2 separate regions of the Homo sapiens genome follow, and region 2 is linked to region 1. A link means that fine-mapping ties the variant in region 1 to the expression of a gene that starts in the linked region. Tissue or cell type: whole blood. Region 1 holds a variant in brackets; the other region holds the start of a gene. All regions are shown on one strand. Distances are from middle to middle.

Evidence for each region. PIP is the estimated chance that this variant, and not a neighbour inherited with it, causes the effect.
Region 2: MFSD1 starts here. The variant in region 1 is fine-mapped to the expression of MFSD1 in whole blood (TOPMed, PIP above 0.99).

Annotation. Positions count from the first base shown.
Region 1 is chr3:158,826,554-158,829,586 of GRCh38, reverse strand. MFSD1 (major facilitator superfamily domain containing 1) reads right to left here. Exons shown (of 16, transcript NM_022736.4): 15 at 2,250-2,307; 16 at 1-608. The coding sequence ends at 605. Among named protein-coding and RNA genes, the nearest start is that of MFSD1, 26 kb to the right of the region's middle. The variant G/A (reference allele first, on the strand shown) is at 1,561.
Region 2 is chr3:158,800,600-158,803,099 of GRCh38, reverse strand. It overlaps MFSD1 (major facilitator superfamily domain containing 1), which reads right to left and starts at 1,046. Exons shown (of 16, transcript NM_022736.4): 1 at 785-1,046. The coding sequence starts at 947.

The sequences.
Region 1 (3,033 bases):
TTAGGGTCCTCAGTAACACAGAAATAAGAAATTGAAAAGGGTCATTGCTCGGCAATCCACATAACTACAGAGTAGAGCGCAAGCTATTGTTCGTGATCAGAAAGAGACTTCATAAAAACATCTTCACATATTCCCTAGCATTATGCCCTACTAGTAAAAGGAAGGCCTATGACAATGCCATTGTTTATTTTGTGTAACGCAGCCCTTCTATTTCCCTCAAAAGTTTTTTTTTCCTGCTATAAGATAAAGAAAAGGCTGTATCCCTAAGATATATACCTAATGAAGATTATCTCAACAGAAGCTCCAACGTTTTCCATTTTTCACTGTCTTTCCTGAAGTTCACCTGGATGTTCCACAGCAATTTTCTAACCCTTTCATTGTTGATTAGCCTACTAAAAGTAGAATTCTTTAGCAACACACAATACAAAAGACACAGGCTAAAACAGGCCTCACAAATACACTTTGAAATAGGTATATTTGGATATAAATATAACTTTCCAGTCCATTATTTTTTCTAATGACTAAACTCTAAATTTTTAAAAATGGAAGTTTTCAAACCAACGATGTGTTAAGCCCATTCTCATGACACATTCATTTTAACTTCTCATCTGCAAAACATAACGCAATAAATTACCAAAGAGGAAGAAAAAAACATGAAGCTCACCTGCCTTATAAAATGAAAACCAAGCATTACAAGACATGTAATAGCAAATACTAAGCTACACATTTTTTTTCTGAGCAATTTTTTAACTCTTCTTGATCCTAAAAGTCACAAAAGATCAATGTAGAAAATTTGAAAAATATTCTGAGTTTTTAATTAATATTCTGAGGTTTCAATTAATATGAGGTTATTTCTAGTAGTATATTTTCTATTATACATAAGTAATTGGGTTTAAAACAAGCATGTGACAGCATACTTTTTCTTGAATAAAATTAGGATATTATATTTGCATTTTTATCTTTTGTTTACTTAGCATACGGCATGTTAAGCATCTATGACATTAAAAATCCTTCTAAAACATGGTTTTAACAACATATCACATGGATGTGTCATGATATATTTAACCATTTTCCCTACTCTAAGACATTTATGTTGTTTCCAAACTTTTAACATAATATGACTATCATAAAGATATTCAAAACTCATACTTCTGATTATTTTAAGATGTATTTGTTAAAAGTGAATTTAATATGACCAAAACCACCCCCATCTCAAAAAAACAGACTGTTCTACCAGATTTTAACCTAGTCAAAAGTCACAACAATTACAATCACATGGTATATATATTTACAAATAAATGTTTAAAATCATAAAAACTTCAATGTCTAAAAATATTAGAAATAACAGGAAACAGAATCACTATTATGTTTCAGTACATACTTTTAGAAAAAGAAATGTTAACTTAATCACCATGCTATATACTTAAATCTCTTCCAAATGAATCAGAGAACACAGAACCACATATTGGTACCAGAAGAAGATGAAAAATTATCAACTACTTAAGAAAAAGAAAATATCTGAGAGAATGGAAGGGTAAGCCCAGTCCAGGACCTCAGGAC[G/A]AAGGCCTTTCCTCCAATAAATTACAAGTAATATAGATCGATCTCTGTCTCTCTCTCTCTCTCTCTCTCTCTCTCTCTCTCCCCCTCTCTCTCTCTCTCTCTCTCTCTCTCCCCCTCTCTCTCTCTCTGTGTCTCTCTCTGTCTCACAGAGAACAACTTAAATTGAATTATTTTTTTTCTTCGTTTCAAGCCTTAATATCCATTTTTAAATTTTCTGAAGCAAACAAGAATGTTGTTATAATAGTTCCACACACATAATAGCTAGCTCTCAAAACTCAAGGAAAACTAATCTCTTAGAAGTTCAAAGCCCAGGCCAGGCGCAGTGGCTCACATCTGTAATCCCAGCACTTTGGGAGGCCGATGCAGGCAGATCACTTGAGCCCAGGAGTTCTAGACCAGCCTGGGCAACATGGCAAAACCCCATCTCTACTAAAAATACAAAAAATTAGCCAGACATGTTGACACACAACTGTAGTCCCAGCTACTTGGGAGGCTGAGATGGGAGGATTGCCTGAGCTGAGGAAGTTGAGGCTTCAGTGAGCTGTGACCATGCCACTACACTCCAGCCTGGACGACAAGCATGGGAATCAAAAAAAAAAAAAAAAACTTCAAAGCCCAAACCTTGAAACGAAATGCTCATATTTAAGATTTCAAAAATAAAGACAACTTTTTACCCTTTTAATACTTACTCAGTATGGGAAAATTTTATTTCTTCCCTTTGTCTTGCAGAATAATTTAGGTTCCCACCTAAAACACAAATAAACATAGATCTTTTCCATATAAGTATTATCAGTAAGTAAATTTCAACCATACATACATACATGCAACCATTTGCATAGATACACTGTATTTTAAGTAATAGAAAAAGCTATCGACGATGAAAAAGTAATGGTTTATCTACTGGAACCTTCCCAAAGGGAAAAAATGAAATTCTTGTGTGATATAAATAATCACCCCTTAATTTAAGCATTTTTTTAAGTTTGGACTTATGTATTGCTTCAAGTGTTGTTACTTAGGACACTGTATTAATATTCAATAATAGTGAAAATTAAGAGAAATTAAAGGAAATGAACAGGTGTGGTAGCTCACGCCTGTAAATCCCAGGCTAAGGCGGGAGGATTGCTTGAGCTCAGGAGTTTGAAACCAGCCTGGGCAACATAGGGGGACCCCATATCTAGAAAAAATTTTAAAATTAGCTGGCTGTGGTGGCATACACCTATAGTCCCAGCTGTTTGGGAGGCTAAAGTGGGAGGATCACTTGATCCTGGGAGGTTGAGGCTGCAGTGAGCTGGGATCGCACCACTGCACTCCAGCCTGGGTGACAGAGTGAGACTCTGTCAAAGAAAAAAAGAAAAGAAAAAAAAAACTATTAAAATAAAAAAAAAAGGAAATGACCTGAAATTATTTACACAGCATATATATTATATTCTACTAAATATATAAAACTCTTTAGGAGCAAGCAGTTAGAAAAAT
Region 2 (2,500 bases), 26 kb after region 1:
ACCAACCACTGTCAAGACTACCACAAGTCCCGTCCAATATGATTGCTTCACAGTGGCAGAGTGGAAGATTAAGAGAACAATATCTATTCACTGAAGCTATCAGCAAGACACACTCATACATTTTCTCAAAGAGGGTGAAAAATATATAGAAGACTGCCGACGAAATCATTCACGTTTTTTAAAAGCTGGACAACATTGTAAGACCCTGTGTCTAAAAATAATAATAATAATAAAGCCGGGTGTGGTGGCGCCCCATCTGTGGTCCCAGCTACTCGGGAGGCTGAGGCGGGAGGATTGCTTGAACCCAGGAGGTGGAGGCTGCAGTAAGCCACTTTCACAACACTGCACTCCGGGCTGGGTGACAGAGCAAGCCCCTGTCTCACCTAAAACCAAACAAACAAAAGTTGTTTAGGAACAGTTAAAGCTTTCTGAATTTCCTCCGACCACGTGTGCCAAAAGAGGAACCTTGAAAATCTGGAGTTACCTTCATATCTATCGCCTCTAGGGCGAGTCGCTAGCCCCTGGGACTTACTGAAGAGCAAAGGAGTGCCACAAAACTCGCCCAGCTCAGTCCCTCGACCTCCACGTTCCGGACGCGGAGTAACTAGCAACATCCACAGGTGTGGCTGGAATCGATCGCAAAGGGGAAAATAAGGAGGCCCAGGAGCTTAAGACAGAAGCTGCGCTGAGGCCCCGTGGCACCAGTGACCACGATGACGATCTACCTCGAAGAGAAAGTCGGGAATTCCTTAAAGATCAGCCCCAACCCACCCGGCCGGCTCACCAAAGCCAAGGAAGCACATCAGTAACAGCACCAAAAGCCGGTGCGCCAGGCGACTGGGGTCGCAGAGGGCCGGCAGGGCTCCAGGGGCGGCCGGGGCACCTCTGTCGGCCTCGTCAGGGCCGCCTGCCAGGAGCGCCCGCGCTTCCTCATCCTCCTCCTCCATTGCGCCCGCAGGAGACGGAGAGGGGAAAGTGGTGACAACTCCAAACCCAGGCAGGAAGCAGCGCCCGTGGAACACTGTCAAGACGGCGGTCACATGACTCCGGGAGCTCACGTGACGCCCCGGCAGGTCACGCAGGGCCACGCCCATGTGAGCGGCCGCGAGCGCTGGGAGGACGGACCCAGCGGTCGATGACAGGGCCTGGCGCGGTTCGCTTTTCCTGGGTGACTGTGTTCGTGGGGCTGAGGCCCTCGAGGTGCCCACTTCCAGCTTTCCACCAATTACTGCACTGTCTTTCCGTTTCCTGCCCCGCTGACGCGTACACCTATTTCAGACTCAGCGCAGCTCCGCGGGGAGAAAAGTGCGGGGCTCCCTCTCGGCTCCACACCAGACTCCGGAGTAGTTCGAACTGCGCTGGGGTCGCCAAGACGCGCGCTGCCCTTCTCCCAGCACTGCCCTCCCCAGCGTCTTTGACCACTCTTAATACCCACAAACTTGATCGGACAATTTCTGGTGTGTCCAGCCATGTGTCACGTACTGGGAATACAAAATAGAATGAGGCAAGCTCCCTGACCTCAAAGATTTCAGAGTTCAGTTGGAGAAATCGACAGAATCTGGTACTTTTAAAACTAAACATGATGAATGAATGTGGTGAGAACAGCGGCAGAAAATGGCACTGAATTCCATAGAAATATCTGGAAAGGTCATTTCAAAAGGGGAGAAAAGGTGCGTAGTTTAGCCAGCTTTCAGGGCAAGGGAGTGAGGGGCGCTGAAGCTCCTTGAAGTTGAAACCCAGGCTAGAATGAGTAAGAATGCGCCAGTCAGGGTGCTTGTTTGAGCGGGTTGGTTGCAGGGCGGGCAGTTACGAGGGATAATAAAGACAAAAGCGTGAAACAGAACTGGGTGTGTATGTGTTTGTGTTGAACGACAGAGAAGGAACTCGAGTAGAAACACTAAACCTGTTTCAAGAAGAGCCATGCAAGGATTTTGAGCACAGCAGCAGGACTGCAAGCTTTGTGTTTTAAAAAACATTCGGTCTGCCAGCACAGCACCATCGTCGCTTTCTGGGAGCCCTCAGGCTTTACTAACAGAATTTTGAGGGCGTCAAAGCTAGAGGCTGAAAACTGTGAGGATTATTAGGAAGATGCTGCAGTCGTAACGATTAGAGATGACGAGGGCCTGTTAGCAATAAAAAGCAGGAATGGCACAGAAGAAAATCAGTAATTATTTAGGAGGTAAAATGGGAATAACTGTAAATAATAGCCTATGCGATCTGAAAGAGAGGAAAGACTTGAGAGTGTCTCCCAGATTTCTAGCTTGGGCCGCCAATAGAGATCAAAATTTAGAGAGAGAAGGAGGTAGGAGAGAGTGTCAAGGATCAGGTGCTGCCTTTGAGATGTCTATACATATCTCCACTTTCACAGTCCATTCTCTCTTCAGCTCCAGTGGAGGAGCTCCCGATCTAATAAAACTGTCTTGCCGAGAGGAGTAATAACTCCATCTTTCCAAATACATTAGTCACTTCTCTGTCATCTTACTCAACTTCTATCAATTGA